Linked DNA regions of Homo sapiens. The protein of the gene in region 3 purifies or fractionates together with the protein of the main gene of each other region. This does not show direct contact. Each region holds a gene or a part of one and is shown on either strand. Other genes may lie near its edges. The genes, in order: MPP2, MTMR9 and CDA.

Evidence for each region.
Region 1: the proteins of CDA (region 3) and MPP2 purify together in Homo sapiens (affinity purification with mass spectrometry; 3 studies listed by BioGRID and IntAct, with this or other methods). This does not show direct contact.
Region 2: the proteins of CDA (region 3) and MTMR9 purify together in Homo sapiens (co-immunoprecipitation; 3 studies listed by BioGRID and IntAct, with this or other methods). This does not show direct contact.

Annotation. Positions count from the first base shown.
Region 1 is NC_000017.11:43,900,868-43,904,694, forward strand, and holds part of MPP2 (MAGUK p55 subfamily member 2), read right to left. Parts: intron 3,627-3,827; coding exon of another isoform or gene 3,594-3,626; coding exon 3,563-3,593; intron 698-3,562; exon of another isoform or gene 417-697; intron 1-416. UniProt on the Homo sapiens protein: Postsynaptic MAGUK scaffold protein that links CADM1 cell adhesion molecules to core components of the postsynaptic density. In CA1 pyramidal neurons, required for synaptic KCNN2-containing channel function and long-term potentiation expression.
Region 2 is NC_000008.11:11,287,816-11,291,642, reverse strand, and holds part of MTMR9 (myotubularin-related protein 9), read right to left. Parts: intron 1-3,827. UniProt on the Homo sapiens protein: Acts as an adapter for myotubularin-related phosphatases. Increases lipid phosphatase MTMR6 catalytic activity, specifically towards phosphatidylinositol 3,5-bisphosphate and MTMR6 binding affinity for phosphorylated phosphatidylinositols.
Region 3 is NC_000001.11:20,592,097-20,595,696, forward strand, and holds part of CDA (cytidine deaminase), read left to right. Parts: intron 1-3,600. UniProt on the Homo sapiens protein: This enzyme scavenges exogenous and endogenous cytidine and 2'-deoxycytidine for UMP synthesis.

The DNA.
Region 1 (3,827 bases), on a different chromosome or scaffold from region 3:
GAGGAGGGGGTAGGCATGCTGCCCCTTCAAGACTGGCGCGGTACTCCGAGACCCTCCCCTCACAGCCAGCTTCAGGAGACCCGAGGGAGAAAAGTCTTGGCCCATCTTGTCCCTGTACCCTCTTTTCTAGAAGCCCCTCCTCTAATACACCCCATGCCACCTCCTCCCTATGCCCTCTGACCTCTGCTCTCAGTCCCCTCTCCAGGCCCTGTTTCCTTTACAATAGTCCCTCAGTCTAAGGAAGTCCCCAAGAACGACTCAGCCCTCCACCGGGAGGCAGCCTCACTTGGGCATGGGGCAAATACCTCAAGCCTCAGACGCCTCCCCCTACCCACCCTTGGTCAGCCACTGGGAGGCAGGGTACGTGGGGGAGGTGGCATCGCTGTGGGTAGGGATGGTGCCCCAGCCCTGCTTACCCCTCGCCTCACAGCAGCTTCTTCCCCTCCCCCATCTCCCATGAGTTCTTCCTCTTAATGAAGGGGATGATGCCCAGGAAGCAAGTCAGGCATCTTGGAACTCAGTTCCCCAGAAAGGAAAAATGAGGGCACATTTGCACACAGGGAAAAGTGTGGGCAGAAGGGAAGGACTCAGCTCCGCTCCGGTGACCCCATTCCTCTGAGATCTTGTGCCCAAGAGGCCACCATCAGGGTACTGCAGCCTCCACTCAGACATTCCCTGAGGAGTGGCACCAGGTCGCATTGCACCCCTGGTTGCCATGACAGTAGAATTACACACCAGGACAGTAACCCAGGGATGGAGGAGAGATTTAAAGGGACAGCTCCACCTGAAAGCAGCCACATATCCCAGCCTTGATCCAAAAAAGGGAGGGAATCTGGTGACAGGGGAAGAGGGAGCAAGGCTGCAGGTCAGGAGATGCCAGGTTCAGGATCTCTAAGTTCTCAGCCCAGTGCCACTGTCCATTTATCTCCCAAGTCTCAGGAAAAGGGCCCCTGACTCTACCCAAAGTAGATATGGGGTCTCCCTGCAAGAGGAATACACCCATACCCTTTCCCTCCCTTCAACCATACTGACCCATGGGGAAGGGCGGAAAAAGGATCTTATTAGCTTTGCCCTTTGCAGAGTCCAAGGCAGGGATCTCCCAGGGGAGGAGGAGGGAAGGGGAGCCTGAACTCAGAGGCAGGGACACAGCTGTCTCTCTATCCTGTGGGAAGTATAATGACCACCAGATAATAAGGGGCAGAATCCACCATTAGATTTTTGAAGCTGGGAGCTAATGTAGCTCAGGATAGGACAGAGGCTGCCTGAAGGAAGAAAAACACTTTGTACTTCTTCCTTTGAATATGAGAAGCCAGGAGCAGCCCCTCGAACAACATGAAGGGGAGCAGGAGCCCCAGGAGTCCTTTGAGGAAGCAGAACCCACCGCCACACCCCAAGGCTCCACTCCCTGTCCCCCATCCTCCCCCACCACGCCCCCATCAAGTGGTCTGCAACAACGAAGCCAAATTGCTGGGCTTGCTCCTCCTCCTACGCCCCAGTCAGGCACTATTGGTGGGTTTACTGGGCAGTCCCGGCTGGAGAGGCCATTAAGCACAGGCTCAGGGGTGGGTTTAATTAATGCCTAAGCAGCTTACAGTGGGGCCTAGGCAGGCTGAAAGAGGCAGGGAGACCCCAGGGAGCCCAGCAGGCTGGACAGGAGATGGGGGACTGAGCCCTCTGATGCTGCAGAAGCTGGGGACATTGGTGCCATCCCTCCACTGCAAGGAGAAGAGGCCTTTCCTGGACAAGTGTACCACAGTTTAGGCCCTGGCTCACTCCCTTCACTTTCTCGGAGAGGAGGCACAGAGGAATCATTCTACCCAAAGTGGCAGCCCTGGAACCTCTGGCAGAGGCAGTAGTGGGGCCTAGAGCAAGGGAAGGAGCTGCATGGGAGGGAGGCATCCAGGCAGGGGGAAGTTCAGACAACTCAGAGCAGAACCATAGCAGTTCCCAGCTGCCCGGGCCTCAGAGGGCCTCTAGCACAGGGAACTTAACCTTCTGGGGTCCTGCGTGCACTACGGGAATCCATGATCCCCTAGAGTAGAATATACCTTTTGTGCATGGATGTATATGTCTACGATGAGGGCTCACTGCTGTCACCAGATTCTAAGTGACTCAGGACCAATAAAATTAAGAACAGGCCAGGTGTGGTGGCTCATGCCTGTAATCCCAGCACTTTGGGAGGCCAAGGCAGGTGGATCACCTGAGGTCAGGACAGCCTGGCCAACATGGTGAAACCCAGTCTCTACAAAAATACAAAAATTAGCTGGGCATGATAGCAGGTGCCTGTAATCCCAGCTACTTGGGAGGCTGAGGCAGGAGAATCACTTGAACCTGGGAGGTGAAGGTTGCAGTGAGCCGAGATCCCACCACTGCCCTCCAGCCTGGGCAACAGAGGGAGACTCCATCTCAAAAAAAAAAAAAAAGAAAAAGAAAAAAGTTAAGAACACTGATCTTGTCCCATCATCTCATCTTAGGGAAATCTCAGGTCTTCAAAAGGAGGTGACTGTTTCAAGGACACAGGGTTAATGCCAAAATAACAACTCAGGCCAGGCACAGTGGTTCACACCTGTAATCCCAGTAGTTTGGGAGGTCGAGGCGGGTGGAGTACTTGAGCTCAGGAGTTTGAGACCAGCATGGGCAACATTTTTGTCTTTACGAAAAATACAAAAATTAGCTGGGCATGGTGGTGCACACCTGTAGTCCCAGCTACTTGGGAGGCTGAGGTGGGAGAATGACTTGAGGCTGGTAGGCAGAGGTTGCAGTGAGCCAAGCTTGCGCCACTGCACTCCAGCCTAGGCTAAAGAGCCAGAACTTGTCTCAAAAACAACAACAACAACTTGGTGGCAGCGGCAGCAACAGCAGCATAATAATTATGACTATTCCTAAAAGTAATGTGCTCTCCCATTACAGCCTTTGCGTCTCACAGCAGCCTCTTTACAGAAGAAGAAATGCGAGCTCCAAGAGGTTAAGCAGTTTGCCACTGAGGCTTTGCTAGTTTGTCTGAGTGGCCCACTCCCTTGTCCTAATGCCTCCTACAGAGCCACGTCCAGGTATCCTAACCTGGTATTCTTGTTCCTTCACTCACAGCTTCCTGGTCCCCAGTACCCCCTGTCCACCTCTGGCACATGCTGGCCTAGTGGGCAGCGATTATGGACTTCTCAGCCCCAGGCTGTGCTGCTGTAATCCCTCCACCCCCAAGCCATTCTCCAAGGCCCAGCTCCGGGGCCACCTCCTGAAGGCCTGGTCCTATGCCACTGCCCTCCAGCAATAGTACGGGTCACCTCTGGAGCATGCATCCCCTGCCCTCCACGGAGGTGAGTTGTGCTCCAGCCCTACACTGGAGCAGGTATGGGTCTTATTCTTTCTCTTCTCCGTTCCAGCACAGGAACCCACACAGAGGAGATGGCCACAGCAGCTGCCAGAAGGAATGGCTGAGTGGTAGGGTGGACAGCAGTGGAGCCAGTTGGTTCTTATCTGGAGCTGTGCAAGTGCCCACCCCTAAGTCCTCGCCTGGCACCCTCTGAACCACTGAAATAAGCTAACATCCTCACCCCCTTCTTACCAGTTTCAGAGTTGGTGGCGGCAACCGGCATGGTGAAGGAGGCAAGGGCTCTGAAACGTCTCTCCTGGAGAGGGGAGAGAGGAGGATGAGCAGATACAAGGGCAAAGCAATGGGGAAGGGAATAGGAAGAGCCTCCCCTTCAGGACGAGCCAGAAAGGTAGGGGAGAAGGTGCTGCCCAGAAAGTGGGGGTTGGAGAACAACAATGATTCCAACGGTCCTGGGAAGCAGGAAGAGCAGGTATTACTCGCCTATTTCTCTGAGGAG
Region 2 (3,827 bases), on a different chromosome or scaffold from region 3:
TACTTTATGTCAGAATAAATATGCTATAAACTATTAAGGTATTCTCCATTCATTTATTCAATGTTTCTAGTCAGTTACTTATAGAACAGTGGGCCAAGAAAAATATGTTTTAAAAACATAAGAGCTCCACAAAACTCCTATGATTCACATCAATTGTCAGATTCAGTTCTATTTTATCATTTTGTCCTTATTGTCCCATCCATGCCCTGTATACATCCCTATCACAGCATTTAAAATACTTTATTAAACTTTCTAGTTTATATGTTTATTTCTTATAATGGTCTTAGTTTTTTCAGGTAGAAGGCATGTTTGATTAATTTCTATATCCTCAGCTCCTAGTACAGCACCTAGCATATACACCATCTTAAAGTTCCACTAAGGGACTTAAAGGAAGATCTGAATAAATAATGTAACATTGTTCATGGATGTCAAGATGTCAATTTGACTCCAATTAATCTATAAATCCAAAACAATTCATTTTTTTAAAATCCTATGAAAATTGTATAAAGTCTGTGGTCTAGTTAATAGTACTGCACCAATGTCAATGTCCTAATTTTGTCCTCATTTTGATTACACTACAGTTATAAAACAGGTCAACATTAGGGGAAGCTGAGTGGACGATTCTAAAACCTCTATGTGCAATTTTTGCAACTGCCTTTGAGTCTTCAATTATTATTAAAGACTTTTAAAAATCCCATGAACATAGCAAGTTTTCCAAAATTGCATGGAAACATAAAGGTCGAAACATAGTTGTCAACTTTAAAAAAAAAAAAAAAAAACGAAAGCGGGGCAACTAGCACTATCCGATTTTTGGACACATCACAAAGCCACAGAAGGAAAGAGAATATGATGATGACAAAAGAGCAGATTAATGAACCAATGGATTATGACAGAGAGCTCAGAAACAGACCCGTATATATAGGATAACTTGACATAAACCAGCCAAGGTTGGGTTGTCACGTGATGGGATTAAGAAAACTGGCTTGCTCTATGGAGAAAAATAGGTTCTTATCACACTTGAAACAAAGATAGAATCCAAATTAAAGACCTAAAAATGAACAGTAAAACTATGAAGCTATTATGGAAGAAAATGTAGGAGAACATCCTGGTGATTTGGGGACAGGGAAGGAGTTCTTAAGACAAGCCACACACCATAAAGCAAAACATTGGCAAGTTCTGCATTAAAAGTAAAGATTTCTGTTCAACAAAGGGCACCACAGAAAAAAACAACAGATGGGTGACACACTAGAAAACATTCGTAATGCCTAAATGGAGAATGAACACCCACAGAGTATACAAGGTACCCATGCAAATCAACATGAGAAGGACAATAAACCCAATGTTTAAAAGTAGACCACAGAAATTAGGCAATTCACAAAAAGGAAAAAAAAAAATTTTAAGTATACTGCTCACAAGCATATACAAAGATAATTAAACACTAATAATTAATGAAATTCAAATTAAAACAAAGCAATAACTATTTCACAATCTTCAGACTGGAAAAATTAGAAAGACAATACCAAATGTTGGTAAGAAAGTGGAGACGAGGTACCCTCTCCTGCACCATCATGGGAAGGCAATGTGCAATTGTCATCCTGGAAAGCAATTAGTTTGTGAAATGAGATACGCACCTACTTTATGGCGCCATCCCATCCTAGGGGCAGTCTCAGAGCAATTATGGCACAAGACTATATAAAGGGACATGAATGAGTATGTTTACCAGAGTTGTTTGTGATAGCAGGGAGTTGGAAGTTACCTAAAAGGTCTGTTAAGGAAGCTCTTTTAGATACTTTGGAATCCTATGCTGTCAGAAGCAGTGAAATGGTTGTACACACAGCAATATGAAGAGATCTTGAAACAGTATTGTGTCACCATATTAAGAAGCAGAACAAGATCTACAACATAATCCCAGTTAGGCAAATTAAACTCACACATGCATGTGTGCGCACACCCATACACAATAGTGCTATCTATTTTATAGCAACAACTAACGTGGTTGCCTACAGGGATTGTGGATGAGGCAGGAAACGGGAGTGAAAATTAGGGAGGAAGAAAATCAACAACAGAGGAAACCTTTTAAGGAATCAATCATGAAAATGATGAGTCATCAACTGAGTAGTAGTAACTCAATTTTCTGAGGTCCATTAAAAAAAAAACCAGGTATAACTGTAAAACTTGTATACAACCTTGCATGTTGAAAGGATCAAATAAAATGATGTAAGCGATATATATGAAAGTATTCCACAGACTTGTGAAGCATTATTTAAACTTAAGTTTCTACGAGGTTAAGTAGTTTGCCCAAAGGCACTTGTCTAGTAAGAGGCAGAACTGAAGGAGTTACCCTTAATGACTTTCTCACCTCATTTACAATTCACCAGCAAGGCAAGGCAGCTCCACTTTCAAAAACACATCCCAAATCAGATTCCTTGTGACTACACTACTGTTTTTTGTTTGTTTGTTTGTTTGTTTTGAGACAGAGACTCACTCTGTCACCCCAGGGTGGAGTTCAGTGGTGCAATCTCAGTTTACTGCAACCTCGGCCTCCCAGGGTGAAGTGATTCTCCTGCCTCAGCCTCCTGAGTAGCTGGGATCAGAGACATGCACCACCAAACCCAGCTATTTTTTGTATTTTCAGTAGAGATGAGGTTTCACCATACTGGCCAGGCTGTGTCGAACTCCTGACCTCAGGTGATCTGCCCGCCTCGGCCTCCCAGAGTGCTGGGATTACAGGCGTGAGCCACCGTGCCCGGCCTACCATCATCTTTTATGTGAACTACTCTACTCTCCAAGCTGGGCCTGCTGCTTCCAGTCTTGCCCCCCTACAGTTTATTTTCTGCCAGCAGCCAGAATTGTCTTCTGAAACATCTATCAGCTGCTGCTTCCTAGCTTTCACCTCTCCAAGGGCTCCCATGAAAACCATTACTGTGGCCTGCAGGCCCTCCACGGTCTGACCACTGCTTATCCCTCCAGCCAGTCTCTACCATCAACTTCCTGTACTCTCTGTTCCCTGCCCTGCAGCCACACTGGCCTCTTCGCTCTTCTCTGCACATGCCAAGCATGTTCCCCATCTCAAGTCTTTGTATTCGCTGTTCCCTCTGGCTGCAATGCTCTTCCCCCAGACACTCACAGTTCTAGCTTCCTCATTTCATTCCGGTCTGTAGTCAGATGTCACCTGCCTTCTCTGAAATCCTTTCTAAGGAAACTGCCTCCCAGTGCTCTTTATCCTCTCATCTTCCGTTACTTTCCTTCCTGGCCCTTATTACCTGACATCATTATATATATATTATATATATATAAATATATTATATATTTATGTATATATATTATATATACATATTATAATATATATTATATGCTATATTATACTATATTATAATATATAATTATTATAATATAATTATTATTATTATATATTATAATTATTAATATATTATATATAATAATTACATGTATTAGGTGAATAGGTGAATAAATAATTATTCACCTATTCGCTGAATAATTAGGTGAATATTTAGGTGAATAATTATTTAATATAATTAGGTGAATAATTATATATATTATATAGGTGAAATATAATATATATTATATAATACGTATTATATAATATATATTATATATCATACGTATTATATACTATGTATTATATGTAATATATATTATATAATACATATATAATACATAGTATATAATACGTATGATATATAACACATATTATATAATATATAATACATATTATGTTATATATAATACGTATTATATATGTTATATATTATAATATAATATATAACATATATAATAAAATATATAATGTTATATATTATATATTA
Region 3 (3,600 bases):
AAGTGCTGGGATTACAGGCATGAGCCACCGCACCCAGCCAGCTCACACATTTTAAGCCAGGGATCATAAAACCCACCTTTCAGGATGACTGTGAACAGAACCAGATTCAGCTGGTATGCTGGTATGCCTGGCACGACACGGCATGGCAGGCAGCATTCACTCTGATCGGTTGGTGCCTGCGCTGAGTATGTAGAATTTCACCCCTGGTTGTGAGGCTTTAAATGAGTAAATGCTTATAAAGCATTCAGCGCATTTTCTGCCTCGTAATAAGAAGGTCACAAATGATAGCTGCTTCTGCTACCACTATTAATGCTATCATTATTCTTATTATCTGGAGGCAGATTGTGGAGGACTTTTGGAGGCCAAACAGAGACACTAAGATTTGAAGAGGTAGGAAGTAGGGAGCCAAGGAATGTTATTAAGAAGAAGAGTAACATAAAAGTGGTGTGTGATGACATTTAGTGTGACAGGTGCTCAGCAAGGGCGGGGACAGAGGAACAGTGTCAGGGTACAGTATCTGCTCCACTCACTGACCTGTCTGCAGTGTCAGCACACTTCCTGGCCTATCACTGGGCCTCTGTAAGGTTTGTTGAACACATGAATGAAAGGCTTCTACTAGGACTGGGACAGGTAGAATGAAGAGAAAGGAATGATCCGAGAGATATTGTGTGGGACACATGGACCGGGCCTGGCATGGGCAGTGTTACAAATAAAGGCTGGGTGCGGTGGCTCATGCCAGTAATCCCAGTGCTTTGGGAGGATGAGGCTGGAGGATCCCTTGAGTCCAGGAGTTCGAGACCAGCCTGGACAACATGGCAAGACGTCGTGTCTACAAAAAGTACAAAAATGAGCTGGATGTGGTGGCGTGCATCTGTGGTCCCAGACACTTGGGAAGCTGAGATGGAGGGATCACTTGAGCCCCAGGAGTTCGAGGCTGCAGTGAGCTGTAATCACACCACTGTACATCAGCTGGGCGACAGAATGAGACCCTGTCTCAAAAAATAAAAAACAAAATAAGAAATAAAGTAAAGGCACATGGCTTTAGGATCGCCAGCCAGGTGGCCCAGGTGAATGATGATGAGGCACTGACTGAGGTGAGGCATTGAAGGCATGGCTGGACTGTGTGCTGGGGACGTGCTGGGCAGGGACCAGCAGCAGTATTCGAAGCTACAATGGAGTGAGCTCACTAAGGACTTCATTTAGATGACCTCCTGTAATATCACAGCCACCTCATGATGGGGGACAATGAGTTTCACATGCACTAATCAGAGTACTTCCTATGGTCAACGTCAGAAAGCAACCAGAACCAGAGCGGGCAAGGGTAGTGCTTGTCTCAGGGTAGCTGGATCCAGGAACACAAACATCACCACATCCTTCTTTATCCTTCTGGGTGCAGGTCTCTTTCTCTTGTCCTGCAGGTGGGCTTTTTCTGGGCATCAGGGAACATGAGTGCAAGCAGTCTCTGGTTTCCATTCTTTTGTTTTTGTTTTTGTTTTAAAGGCAGGGTCTCTCTGCTGCCCATGCTGGAAGTACAGTGGCGCGAGCCTAGTTCACTGCAGTCTCAAACCCCTGAGTTCAAGCTATCCTCCTGTCTTAGCCTCCCAAGTAGCTGGGACTACAGGTATGTACCACCATGCCCAGCTAATCTTTTTTATTTTTATAGCGATGAGGTCTTGCTACGTTGCCCAGGTTGGTCTCGAACTCCTGACCTCAAATGATCCTCCCACCTTGGCCTCACACAGTACTGGGATTACAGGCATGAGCCACTGCACCTGGCCTGTTTATCATTCACACATTACTGAAGTAGGAAGTGAGGCCAGGTGCAGAATAGGGGGTGGATGCAGTAAGTTGGGGCTTGGAGCAGGGGGCACCTGGACACCCAGAGGAAGCCTGGTGTGGTTTCATGGGGTGAAGCAGAGCTGATCAGGAGGCAGAAACGGCACAGCTGAGTTTAGACACTGTGAGTTTACAGCTTATGGCAGAACAGGTCTGCCCAGGTCTGTGACTTTCTCCAGCTAAACACAAGACCGGCACAGGTGAAGGCTTCCCCCTCCAAGGCAGCTGGTGTCCCATCCAATTCAAAAGCAGGCCTGGCTGCAAAGACGGCCTTGCTATCGAGACTTCATAATGATCATCATTTTCTCTCTGTTACTCCCAACCCTGGCCAGGGCCTTGTGCCCCTCACAGATGGGCCACCCAGGATGGTGATTAACAACTACAGCAATTAGGTTTTCATGATGCACCTCGGGCTGGTAACATTCGTGACTGCTTGTGGGGAGAGCCGAGGGAGAGGTACAGAAAGAGGAGCTCACTGGTGAGGAAAGAGCTGCTAAGGGAAAAAAAAAAGTGAGGACACAAAGAGGAGAGTGGAGATGGCACAGAAGGAGGATTGAGAAAGCAAAGAAAATGGGCCAGGCGCGGTGGCTCATGACTGTAATCCCGGTGCTTTTGGAGGCCGAGCTGGGCGGATCACCTGAGATCAGGAGTTCGAGACCAGCCTGGCCAACATGGTAAAACCCCATCTCTACTAAAAATACAAAAAATTAGCCAGGTATGGTGGTAGGTGCCTGTAATCCCAGCTATTCAGGAGGCTGAAGCAGGAGAATCGCTTGAACCTGGGAGGTGGAGGTTGCAGTGAGCCGAGATCACACCACTGCACTCCAGCCTGGGCGACAGAGCGAGACGCCATCTCAAAAAAAAAAAAAAGAAAGAAAGATAAAAGAAAAGAAAGAAAGCAAAGAAAATGGTCCACGGAAACGGAGTCAGCTCCGGGCCTTGCACATGGCTGAGGCTCAGCCGGTGTTCGTGCAGCGCCGGGTGGGTGATGGGCAGGGAAGAGAAGGACCACCTGTAACCCTAGGGGCACTGCACGAGGTGTCCCTGGGCTCGTGGGGAGTATGCATCTGGCGATGAGACCACGACAGTGCCAGAAAGGGTCCCAGGATGGTGCCCAGACACAAGACTTCTTGGCTGTAGTTTCTGCCAACTCTGCTGGCACAACCCAAGGGATGGGAGGGTTTATCTTCTTCAGCTCATGACCTTAGGACAGTGGTCTCTCTCCCTCTTTCCTCCTCCTTTCCTCTCCGTCTGCCATTTAGGGAAAAAGCCACTTTACTCAACCAGCTGGGGTGAATTCTGAGAGGAACACACCACATTTTAGAAGACACTTGAGGATGTCTTGGTTAAGTAACCACTGAATCCAGCCTACCTTGGCTTAATTCTTAAATCTGAGTCTTCCATTTTCCCTCAAACCACCCCCTGCTGTTCTGATTCTGTCCCTGGTCTCCCTTTCTCTGCCTGGATGCATTTTCCTAGAAGCATTTCTTGGTGCCTGACACCAGCCCCTCTCTTCAGCAGCTGATGGACCCCAGGCCCCATCCCCCCAACACCACAGCATCTCTGGTCTAGGTAAGAGCAAGCTTCTCTAACCTGGGTCTTCAGCTTACAGCCCAGCTCCCATCACGCCCCGTTTCCCGCTGTTTCCCCCTGCCAAGGAACTTCAGTTAGTCCTCTCCACTGTCACTCAAAAGTGGCTCATTTTGTGACCAGCCTAGGCAACAGGGTGAAACCCCATCTCTACAAAAAATACAGAAATTAGCC